Homo sapiens: one gene and its partner. The protein of the gene in region 2 purifies or fractionates together with the protein of the main gene of each other region. This does not show direct contact. Each region holds a gene or a part of one and is shown on either strand. Other genes may lie near its edges.

Region 1 (7,951 bases), on a different chromosome or scaffold from region 2:
GCAGCATGGACTTTCCTGAGAGGGGAGAGCAGCAGACGCTTGGTACAGTGAACTCCCCTATCCCTCTTCACCACTAGTTCTTCCACCCCAGTCAAACTGGGACCTCATCCATTTTTTTTTTTTTGAGGACCTTTCTTCCCTTCATTCGTTCAAATCTTGCCAGCCCCCATTCTTGGGATTCCTTTCTAACTTTCCTCCAATTCTTGCCCCACCCCTTATCTGAAGCTTTTTTCACTTACCACAGCTTCACACGCCCCTGACCAACTTCTCCAGCACCTGCTGTAACTAATCATGTGGTACAGGGTGGACGCACCCTAATCTGAAAATCCAAAATGCTCCAAAATCCAAAACCTTTTAAGTGCTCACATGATGCTTAAAGGAAATGCTCACTGGAGAATTTCAGGTTTTTGGATTAGGGATGCTCAGCCGGTAAGTATAATGCAAATATTCCAAGATCCGAAACACTTCTGGTTCCAAGCATTTCAGATAAGGGATACTCAACCTGTACATAACACATACTGCTCTGCGTTGCTAGTTCCTTTCCCCTGGACATAATCTGGTCTCCCATCCCTATTCTAAATGCTTTGCTCTGAACACAGTTGATGCTAAATAAATGCTTGTGAGTGACAGATGAGCTAAGGAGAGATACCTCCCACCTCCCCTTCCAAGGCCTCACCAATTCCATTTAAACCAATGAGGCCATAACGACGGCCTGAGTTTAATTCCAGTTTGGTGTCACTGAGCAGCTCTTGACCATGAAAGGTAAGTGAGAGGTTGATGATGTGAACATCAGTACTGTTGGGGTGAGAGGCCAGGACGCCAGTGACAGCTCGAGCAGCAGCTTTCTTCATCTCAAAGTCCTCTAGCTCCTTGGTCAGCAAATCTACTTCTGCGGATAGAAAAGCAGTTTGGGAAGATGGCGTGAGACAGACTCGGCTCTCCACAAAGGTCAACGTCCTGAAGGACCAGGCTCCAATCCTGCTGAGCACTCAGATGTTTCCCAAACTTTACAGAGTGCACAATGACACAGAGCTGCCCCGACACCCTGCTTTCCTTTGTTTTGTCCTCCCATATCTGTTTACTTACTCCCATCACTCTTAACTTCTGTCCTCCACTACTGTGGCCAGGAATAAAACTTCCCCACAGCCTGACTTTATTGCTCTTTCTAATTGCTTTCTAAGTCCCCCTTTTCTGAACGCCTATCTGTTACAACTTGCAGACTAATTCTCCTTTCCTCTTCAAACATTTACTTAGTGTCTACCTGAGAAGCAAGTCATAAAAAAAACCCAAGACAGGGTCCTTGCACTCAAAGATGAAACAATTTAGACAAAGAAACAGGAGATACAACATAAAAAGGTAAGTAACACTAAAAGACAGCAAAAGGGTATAGAGAATGGAAATACTGTGGTCAGGTTTGACTGAGAGACGCTTCATTATCTTGAGCTGGGCCTTGACAGAAATGTCAAATGTAGCTAGCAAAAACATGATGGTATTATAATTCAGTGTGTGAAAGGACAGAGATGTGGTGACTATCCAAGAGATAATAAATAGTCTGGATGGAGCAGAAGGCTGTTTAGGGAGTTTTCAGGGGGCAGGGAAGAGGGCTGGGATTGGACTGCCAAGGGCCTGGAATAGTCTTTACCGCATATGGCCATGTTTCCCAGTCTAGACGGTAAGTTTTTGGAGGGAAGACGGTAGTGCCTCAGTGTATAGCACCATGTCTAGCACTTGAGAAATAATAAATATTTCCCAAAATATAAATAACAGAAAGGGAGCTCTCTCCCAGGAAAAACCCCATAAATCAACTCATAAGTTACTCTCTTGTAGGTAGAGCCACTACACCAGTGAGAGGACAAGCTTATTGTATAATGTAGCAAAGAACCTGGCACATTGGTCACCATGCATAGAAATGGAAACTGAGAAAGGGGCAGGGAACTGATCCCCTCCTCACAATCTAATAGAGCAGCAAGGCAGCTCAGCAACTCTCACATCCGCTTGCCACTGAGTATGTGAGAACCTCGTCTTCGGCTTCCTTGCGCAATGACAGGGTGGCACGAATTCCAACTCTACTGATTTGATTCATCATGAAAAGTTGCATGACACCAGATACATTCTCCACTACCCCCAGCATCAAGATTCCAACTCTGGCTGGGGCATGCATTAAGTCTTAGCAACCATCCCCAACTCACCCCTCCCTCAATTCACCTGTGGTCTCTCTGCCATTGGCCTCATTCTTCTCTGCCACCTGTGGTTCTGTGACAACATCTCCATTTTCTTCATGTCCTTTTCTGGGCCGCTGTCGAGCTTTGGCAGCCTCCTTCTTTTTGGCTGCCTTCTTCTTGGCCAGGTCGGAGGGCATGATGATGACCCACAGGGGTAGGTTACTGTTGTTTCAGGGAGCCTGAAGGAAGGCAAACAGATACCCCCAAACCCTAAACTTACTAGTAAGAATGCCTGGGCCCTGCTCCATCCCTCTCAGGAATCTTCGTATCAACATCAAGCCTCTGATGCCCTGGCCTGCCCCCGCCTCGTCTGTTCCAACTTGGTCAGGGTATCCCAAACCAATGCCGATTCTCAGCGGCTCTTCTAATCTTAACATCTCTTCCCACAGGCACCAGTCCCCCACGGACTGCCTCACTTTGGAAACGCTCCTTCTTTCAGGGCCTCCGGCTGGGGACCAGGTTCTGCCCCTCAGCGGAGGTCTCCGTCTCCGGTTTCCCTACAACTTGGCGCTCCGCACTCAGCTAGCCGCCTCACTTTCCGGGCTTCCTCCTCCCGTCCGTCTCGGGCCTCTTCTCGATCGTCCCTCTCCACATCACCCGGCCGTCGAGCCCAGCCTCTTGCCGGGACGCACTCGTCCTCGCCCGCGTGAGTCCCCTCCGAGTCTCCACGCTCGTCACCCCCGGGTCCTCCCCCACCCCGCCCGTCAGCTTCTCTCCCTTAGCCCTATCTTCCCCCTCGCAGAGCCCTCCATCCAAACCCCGTCCCTGCTTCCTCTTCTAATTCTCTTTCCCCCTCACCGGCGGGGACCCTCTCCCTACAGCTCCCCTTCCCCTAACTCACTGGGCCTCGCTGCTCGGCCTATGTCGCAACAGAGCTGCTCCTTAGGATCCTCCGCGTGCGGCCGGCTCACCAGCCAATCACGGCCTCGGGTGGTTCTCGGCGCGCCGCGCTGCCTCCTTGGAAGTGTAGTCCTCAAGTTGCAGCGGCCAAGAGTGAGACCCGCCTTGAGGACTACTATGTATCCCACAGACCTCGCGGGGCCGCGTGACGCCATCAGGATGCGCGAGGCTCGGGGAGGGGGCGGGATTAGAGTCCAAGAGCTCTCTGCTAGCGGGCGCACTTCGGGCGCTGGAAACTGCAAATCCCAGATTGCTCGTTGGATAAACCGGCTGAGCCTTCAGGCTTTACCCCACCTCTCGAAAATCCATTGAGCTGTTGTGGAGTTACGAGTTTTTAGAGCTACCTAACCGACTCAGGCAGCAGGGCGTGCAACTACACTTCCCAGCTTGCCTCAGCGGGAGTAGATCGAAACAATGGGAGAGGAGAGGTGGGAGCGTGAGGGGAGGACTAAAATGAAGGGGGCGCTGGGCAGGGAGGGGTTCCAGAAAGCGGGGCATCGCTGCAAAGATGTTGCCAACGGAATTCCTTCACGAAAGAAAGCGCCTTGGTTTCATTAAACCTTAATTTTAGAGGCTGGTTCATTGTTAAACTTTTAGAAGGTGCCAGACGTTGTTTTGGAACCTCGGCCGCTTAGCCTCCCCGCTGCCGCATTGTTAGGTTTCCACTGAAGCCATGCAAGTTTGGTGGAAAGGGCCCCGAGATAAAAAGGCCCCTTGGCTGAGATTTGTTTTATTATTAGTTAGCCATGCTACCGGGCCCGTTACTTTCCCTTTGAGTCTCACTGTTTAAAATCTCTCACATGACATTTTGGGCTGGATGGTTTAAAAATAAATACAATCTCTCAAGGACTTCACATTACCTACATTGTAAACTCCAAATGTTTAGCCTCAAGTACAAGGCAGGCCCTTTGTGATCTTTGTTACTTCTCCAGGCTCCTGTGCAGCAGAAGCCTCACCATCAGTGACGTTTGGGGCAGCAAAGGAAGCTATTGCTCCCTTTGAGCATATTCTCCAAATGTGGCACCTTTTCGCCCACAGTCCGTGACTCAAACAATGAGAATTAGTTTTTCTTCTCAAACTCATACTTCAGTAGAACTTACCTACTTAAATAGTTCGGAGATTAAGCGTGCTATTTTACACCTGCATGCCTTTGAACATACATTTTCCTAGAATATCCTCCACCAACGAAGTGCCTACTATCTGTCAGGCTCAGATATATGTGCTGGAGTTGCAATGGTGCAAAGTCACTCCCTGACCTCAGGGAGCTCATAATAAAGAAGGAACATGTGAAAAGTAAACAAGCCGGGTGTGGTGGCTCACACCTGTAATCCAAGCACTTTGGAAGGCCGTAGTGGGAGGATCATTTCAGCCCAGGAGTTCAAGGCTGCAGTGAGCTATAATCAAACCACTGCACTCCAGACTGGGTGACAAAACTAGACCCTGTCTCTAAAAAAACAAAAAACAAAAAAAACAGACCTTGACACCATGAAATTAAGTGCCCTAAACGAAGTGACTTTCGTGTGTTGCTGGGGTACCTAGGTGGAGACCTCACTTGGCATAGCATAATTAAGAGCATAACCCCAGTTCTATGCTTCATTGTGTGGCCTTGGGCAAAGTACATGTTCTCCTCTGTAAAATGGGAATATAGTTACAAAAAGAATACAGTTAAATGACTGTAAAACCCTTCTGTATGAAGCAAAAGAGTTATTTATGGGCCGGGCACGGTGGCTCACGCCTGTAATCCCAGCACTTTGGGAGGCCGAGGCCAGCGGATCACGAGGTCAGGAGATCGAGACCATCCTGGCTAACACGGTAAAACCCCGTCTCTACTAAAAATACAAAAAATTAGCCAGGCATGGTGGCGGGCACCTGTAGTCCCAGCTACTCGGGAGGCTGAGGCAGGAGAATGTCGTGAACCTGGGAAGTGGAACTTGGAGTGAGCCGAGATCACGCCACTGCACTCCAGCCTGGGCAACAGAGCGAGACTCCATCTCAAAAAAAAAAAAAAGTTATTTATGATTGTGGATCACATAAAAAGCACTCATTTGGCTGAGTGTGGTGGCTCATGACTGTATTCCCAGCACTTTGGGAGGTGGAGGCAGGTGGATCTTTTGAGCTCAGGAGTTCAAGACCAGCCTTGGCAACATGGCGAAGTCCTATCTCTATTAAAAAAAATACAAAAATTAGCCGGGCGTGGTAGCGCATCGCTGCGGTCCCAGTTACCCAGAAGGTCAAGGCTGCAGCAAGCTGAGATCGTACCACTGCGCTCCTACCTGGGCAACAGAGCAAGACCCTGTCTCAAAAAACAAAACACAACAAAGAAACAGATTCAAGCGCCTGTGCCTCCTGGGAGAAATATGCTTCTCCTTTCCCAGCCTCGTTTAAAAATGTGTGGTTACAGATAACAATATTTATTATGCTTTTTCATTTATGCCATCACATTAAACTCCCCACCCCCAACAAACTCCGAGGTGAGGATTATTACCATTTTGCAGATCAGGAAACTACGGTGACAAGCAGCTCTGGGCAGCTCTGTTGCCTAGGCTGGAGTTCAGTGGCACGATCATGGCTCACTGCAACCTCGACCTCCTGGGCTCAAGCGATCCTCCCACGTTGGCCTCCCAAGTAGCTGGGACTACAGGCAAGCACCACCATGCCTGGCTAATTTTTGTTTTTTTTTTTCAGAGATGAGGTTTTGCCATGTTGCCCAGGCTGGTCTGGAACTCCTGGGTTCAAACGATCTGCCCACTTTGGCTTCCCAAAGTGCTGGGATTACAATTCCAGGCATGAGCCACTGCACCTGGCTACAGTTTTTAAATTTTACATAGAGATGGTGTCTTCTTATGTTGCCCAGGCTGGTCTCAAACTCCTGGGCTCAAGAGATCCTCCTGCCTCGACCTTCTGAAATCCTGGTATTACAGGTGTGAGCCACCATCCCTCCCCCTGCCCACCCTGCCCTGGGTTTAGCCAGAGAAAAGAACTCGGGATGAGGGGAGAAGAAACAGGGAAAGAGAAATGGGAAAATGGGGGAGAAAAGGAGGTGAGTAAAGAGAGAGGAGAAAGGGACTGGCTAAATTTGAAAAAAATCACAGAAGGTCAGTGCTGGAAACAAGAATATTTGGCTTAGACTCTGTTTAAATTATGAAGAAACGGAGACCCAAGGAAGGAAATGTCTCTTGGAGAATTACCTAGGAACTTAGTAACTGAAAAGGATCTGGACCTGCAGTGTTCAGTATGGTAGCCTCCGGCCATATGTGGCTATGGAGCACTTGAAATGTGGCTAGTCTGAATTGAGATTTGCTGTTAAGTGTAAAATACACATCAGACTTCAAATATTCCATATAAAAAAAGAATGTAAAGTATCTCATCAATAATTTTTCATATTGACTCCATGTTGAAATGATTGGGATATATCTAATAATACAATAAAATATTAAAATTAATTTTACCTTTTTTAACTCTAAAAAATGTGGTTACTAAAAAATTTTAAACAACATATATGGCTCACATTTGTGGCTTGCACTAGATTTCTACTGGACAGCGCTGGTCTAGAAATCTTCTGACCTTGAGCTAAGTGTATCTGCTGTTTCCCAGTCTCTTCCAACAAGTCATTTACAACCTATCATGTGCCAGCTGATGAGAACAGATTCAGTTGCAGTCTAAGGATGAGACTAAAACAGGGATAACAGGTGCTGGTAGGCAATATCAGTGAGTTCTATCTTATATACTCCTAGAATGGTATCTATAAGATATACATACAAGATATTCTTGAGTGGTTCTTAACTTTACCAGCCCCAATGTTCCATTTTAATAACATTTTTATAACTCCCCATTTACTATTGTGAAATGAAGTTTATAGATAGTATAGCCTAACTACATACATAATTTCAAAAAAAATTATAGTGTCTGAACCAAAGCAGAAAGAATAAAAGGAAATCCTTTATAATAAGATAATACTTTTCAGTATGCTAGAAAGCATAATTAGTCAGATGCTAGTAGTTATGCATAGGAGCACCTTGAATGTGACAGTACAAATGCAGACTGAACGCTATGAATAACACTGCTATCAGTGACCCAGTTCTCCAAAATGGTGAGTAATTCCTAATAAATTCCTGAACACAACAAAGTATAATCTTCCTTCTGTTAACATGGTGGTTACATTCCTTAAAAATTCAGCACATTTTACACCCCTACAAGATTACTTTGTTTTTTGTATATAAGACACAGGCACATCAGATGATTATAACCAGTTTTTTTTTAACCTATATGAATATTCAGTAGGACATGTGAAAGCTGTGTGGGATCAGGACAGTTTTCTTGTGTGATACCATCTTGCAATGTGCAAGACATGGAGCCTCCTTGGCTCCTCTCCCCCAATCATTTGACAACAAAATTGCCCCGAACATTTCCAAATTGCTCCTTAGGGAGGGTGCCATTCTGGTTGGGGAACCACTGTGGTGGTCTGAATGCTTTACCTGTTCCCTGTTCCCCAGCCTTACCTTGGGCTGTTCTCCCCTCACCAGGCTCAAAGATGCCCTGGGCCTTCCCAGTTCTTCTCCAAGCCAATCTCTTTCCTCTCTCAGGACATTCTGGTGCTCTTTTCTTTGCCTGGAAAACTGTCCACTTCATGTCTGGATAACTTTTCCTGAACCTTTGGATCTCAGCATTGCCAAATTCCCAGTCTAATTTAATACTTTGTTTAGTTTTTCCACAGGACTCTGTGCTTTTCTGCAATGGTACTTATCAGACTGGGATTTCTACCTGTTTTATTCTTGCTATGTCAAGCGTGTTTATTACCTGTCTCCCTCAACTTTCAGTTCCCTGAGAGC
Region 2 (4,537 bases):
CAGGAAAGGGGGTCCCACCCACAACCCACACTCACCCTGGAAGGCAGAGCCTCTTCTCCCATAAAGCCTGGCCCAGCCTGGAGCTGAAGCCCGGGGCCGCCACCTGAGAGGGCTTGGTTCTGTCTGTAGAGCAGGGGTCTGAATAGCCTGGTGCCCTGGACCAGGTGACCCGGCTCTGTGCACTGCACCTGCTCCTATCACTGAACTCTCCCACAAGGCGGGGACAGACGAAGAAACTGAGGCTTGATGAGTGACCCCACTGCAGAGCCCCACCGTGGGTAGGGTGCCCCGACCTGCACTCTGGCTGCTGGGCTCCACGGCCCAGCTGTGTGCCCTGAGTGGTATCCTGGGGACGATGCCACACAAAGCCTGCGGAGCCGTACCGTGCCTGACACCTGGGAAGCCCCAGGCCAGCGGTTAGTTACCACAAGGGCTGGCACAGCCCAAGCCTGATGCCTCCCTTGACCGCCAGCCCCACGCAGCACTCAGCCACACGGAGCTCCATGAGATGCCTGCCATGACAGGCGCCACAAACCTTTCCTTTATTGCAAACATGTCCCAGTCCCGGGAGGCTTGGGAAGAGTGGGAACCAGGGGAACCCAGGGATGGGATTCCACTGAAAACAAACCGTCCTGCTGTCCTGTCGAGGGCCCCCACCCACAGGATGTAGCCATGGGACAGCCACTGAGGGTCCAGGAAGAGGGGCGGCAGAGCAGGGAGGCAGGGACAGGGAGGGGTCGCCCCAGGGCAGTGGCAGGGCTGGAACTCGTCCCTAACATCCCTGAGCCCCAGCAGGTGCCCTGTGTTAGAAGCGAGAGGGCTGGTGGGGGTGCGTGGACAAGGGGCAGAATGATCCTGCCCCCAACCAGTATCGCCAGGCGCTGGCCCAGTGGCCCCAGGCCCTGGCAGCTGGCGTCTTCCGCTGCCTTCCCTCTGCTCTGCGCGGGGACATTCAGTGCGCTGGGGAGGCCTCGGTGATGGCCCTCTCCACCCGCAGGTACCAGGGCTGGATGTGCGTGTGCTGCATCAGGTCATCGAACGCATCCAGCCCCTCCATCACACGCAGCACGCCATACACCGCCTGGGGCACGAACAGAAACGTGTCACCATAGCTGGTTTGACAGGCATCCAGACCTCCTTCGTTCCCTGCCAGCTGTGTGGCCAGGTCCCGTCCCCTCCCCCCTTGGAGCTCGTGACCCACTCAAGGGCCAACAGCACAGGTGAGGGTTTGAACAAAGCATGTGGGGTGGCTGCAGGTCTCGCCTGCTTCACATCTGTACCCCCTTTTCTGGGCCACAGACCCTGCCCCCCAGCAAGTTTCCTTGGGATAAATGCCCTCCCCTCATCTCAGGTCCTGAGATGGGGGAGAAGAGACCCCACCACCCAGTTTCAAGACCCAGGTCACCCAGGGGCAGGACAGTTTTAAAAATGAGCAGTGGGCCAGGCACGCTGGCTCACGCCTGTAGTCCCAGCACTTTGGGAGGCCAAAGTGGATGGATCACCTGCGGTCAGGAGTTCGAGACCAGCCTGACCAACATACTGAAACTCTGTCTCTACTAAAAATTCAAAAATTAGCCGGGCATGGTGGCACAGGCCTGTAATCCCAGCTACTCAGGAGGCTGAGGCAGAAGAATTGCTTGAACCTGGGAGGCGGAGGTTGCAGCGAGCCAAGACTGCACCGCTGCACTCCCGCCTGGGTGACAGCGTGAGACTTGGTCTCAAAAAAAAAACAAAAACAACAACAACAAAAAAAAACAAAAGGAAAAAGGGCAGTGAAGCCAGGCCAGTGAGACGCCCTCCCAGGGGTTTTCTGGGAGAAGCCTGGAGCACCGGACCCAGCCCGCCTGAGGCTGAAGCCAACTCCAGGGAGGGCAGTGTTGATGGCGACAGGTAGAGCTTGGGCTCTGGTAACACCACCCGGGCCTCTGGATCCAGCAGGGCCCGAAGCCAACCCGTTCCCTGAACTTGTCAGTTATGTGAACCAAGGCGGTTCCTGGTCATCTGTTTCTCTCCTGGAGCCACTTCGAGGCGAGTTTCTGTCCGTGATGGCAGAGAGAGGCAGGTTCCTCTGGCAAGATGCAAGCACCGTCCAGGCTTTCCCTTGCAAACCTCCCCCACTCTGAGGACAGAACCCTCGGTCCAGGCACCACCTGCCACCACCACACTCACCAAATCAGCGAGATTCGGCTTCTGGCCCCCCATGAAGGGCCGGTCCTTGCCCACAGCAGCCACCCACTTGTCAGCAGCCTCATAGAGGTCCTCGCGCACGTTGTCCTGGAGGCGGTGCCTGGGCGGGGAAGGGAAAAGCCCCTCAGGGGAGCCCCCACTCCCAGCCCAGCAGGGAAGAGGGTCTCCTCTGGGGAGAGGGGGGAGGTGTGGAAGCCAGGACGGCACCCCAGGTGAGAGCATCACATCTGCAGACGCCTCAGGGAGCATCCGTCCCAGACGGGGAGGCTGTGGTAAAGGCAAGAGACCAGGCCAGGGAGAAAGCCACAGAGGAGGCGCCAGTCAGGGCCCAGGCTTCCGGCTTCAAGGCCAGCCCTGCTGTCCCCAGGGGAGGTGAGCAGGAGCTCTGGGTCCAAGTCCCATCTTGGCCAAGGGACCCATAATCCATAATGCGTTTCCCACCTGCCCTAGGCCTCGGCCTCCCGCTGGTCTCCTGAGGGGTGTGATGGGATCACCACTGCTCGTGGCACCGGAGGCTCGGGGACAGCAGGCCCCGGATGTGCACACACACTTGCCTGCTCTTGAGTCGCTTGCTGATGAGGTACATGGCCGCTGCACCCATGTACTTGGCCACGGCACCCTCCACGGCTCCGAACTTGCCCTCGCGGACAATGTAGTCAAAGGACGCCAGAGCCTCGGTGGGCGTGCGGTACACATTGGGGGAGATCAGGTGCACCAGCCAGTCGTCCGCCCACTGCCGCCACTTCATCTCCTCCCTGCGGGCACGGGAGGGACTTCCTAAGCCAGGACCCGGGCTGTGTTGGGAGCAGGCTGCATTCTCTAGAACATACCCACTGCACGGGCGGGAAGCTGAAGCCTGAGCAGGAAGGTCTTTTTTTTTTTTTTGAGACAAAGTCTCGCTCTGTCACCCAGGCTGGAGTGCAATGGCACCATCTCAGCTCACTGCATCCTCCGCCTCCTGGGTTCAAGCGATTCTCCTGCTTCAGCCTCCTTAGTAGCTGGGATTATAGGTGTGTGCCTCCACACCTAGCTAATTTTTGCATTTTTATAGAGATGGGGTTTTGCCATGTTGGCCAGGCTGGTCTTGAACTCCTGACCTCAGGTGATCTGCCTGCCTCGGCCTCCCAACAGGCTGGGATTACAGGAGTGAGCCACCACGCCCGGCTGCAGGAAGGTCTCTACTGAAATCCGGCATGGCCCGGCCCCAGCCCCGCTGGTCTCCCATGCTGCTCCCTGCTCACGCCATCTTGCTCAGCTTGGTCCTACTCTACAGAAGACCCCTGCGGTCACCACCTTCCCCCGCCAGCCCCAGCCCCACTCACGTCCTGGCCTCCTTCCCACCATACACTTGCTGGGCCTCCTTCTCGTTGAGCATGAGCCAGTACTTATTGCCGAACTCGGTCACCTCCTTGCCCTGCTCGTTCACAGCCTTCATGGCTGGGTAGTAGGTGATGATCTCTTCCAGGGGCTGCCTTCGGAGAGAGCCACAATATCACCCCAACTCCTTCCCCCTCCGTCCCCTGTGGCCGACCAACCCCGCTGCCCCAGCCTCAGAGTGGAGCCAGGACCAACAAAGGCTCTCCGGACTCTTGCAGTAAGAGGGATTTGGAGTAGATGCCAGGGCTACCTCCCCAAGAGAGGGAGGTGTGGGGAGGACAAAGTAGGGGGCTTGGAGGAGGACGGCCACGGGCTACTCTGGAAAATCATTTTTTTTTTTTTTTGAGACGGAGTCTCGCTCTGTCACCCAGGCTGGAGTGCAGTGGCACGATCTTGGCTCACCGCAACCCTCTGCCTCCCGGGTTCAAGCGATTCTCCTGCCTCAGCCTCCTGAGTAGCTGGGACTACAGGCACTCGCCACTATGCCTGGCTAATTTTTGTATTTTTAGTAGAGATGGAGCTTCGCCATGTTGGCCAGGCTGGTCTGGAACTCCTGACCTCAGGTGATCTGCCTGCCTCGGCCTCCCAAAGTGCTGGGATTACAGGTGCGAGCCACTCTGTACTCTGGAAATCTAAGCAGCAGCTCCACGTGCTCCCAGGAGGGAACTCAGGGGAGGCCTCCCTGGAGGAAGCCACCAAAAGCAATGGCCACCTGGTCTCCGAGGGGCTCCTTACCCCGACACCAGGTAGGTCTTGAGGGCGCTGATGATGACAGAGGAGTCATTTAGTTGTTGCTGGAAGAGAAAAGGGTGGTTTAATCAGAGGTTGCAACCCAGCCGCTGGGAGTCACCAGGGGCTCTTTAACAAGACACTCTGGGCATTGTTTATCCATTCCTGGGGACATGCCCGGAGTCCTCCCCGCCCTGCCCTCAGGGCACCCATCCTAAGTAGGGAGACGTGGTTGTGGCCAATG

The links.
Region 1: the proteins of PTGES2 (region 2) and ABCF2 purify together in Homo sapiens (affinity purification with mass spectrometry; 2 studies listed by BioGRID). This does not show direct contact.

What each region holds. Positions count from the first base shown.
Region 1 is NC_000007.14:151,224,100-151,232,050, forward strand, and holds the start of ABCF2 (ATP-binding cassette sub-family F member 2), read right to left. Parts: upstream 3,107-7,951; 5' UTR 3,064-3,106; intron 2,402-3,063; 5' UTR 2,360-2,401; coding exon 2,206-2,359; intron 890-2,205; coding exon 677-889; intron 16-676; coding exon 1-15. Other genes in the region: ABCF2-H2BK1 (ABCF2-H2B protein), read right to left, coding at 1-15, 677-889, 2,206-2,359.
Region 2 is NC_000009.12:128,120,193-128,124,729, forward strand, and holds the end of PTGES2 (prostaglandin E synthase 2), read right to left. Parts: intron 4,359-4,537; coding exon 4,300-4,358; intron 3,660-4,299; coding exon 3,510-3,659; intron 2,943-3,509; coding exon 2,742-2,942; intron 2,455-2,741; coding exon of another isoform or gene 2,409-2,454; exon of another isoform or gene 2,294-2,408; intron 2,288-2,293; coding exon 2,170-2,287; intron 1,082-2,169; coding exon 953-1,081; 3' UTR 501-952; downstream 1-500. UniProt on the Homo sapiens protein: Isomerase that catalyzes the conversion of PGH2 into the more stable prostaglandin E2 (PGE2) (in vitro). The biological function and the GSH-dependent property of PTGES2 is still under debate.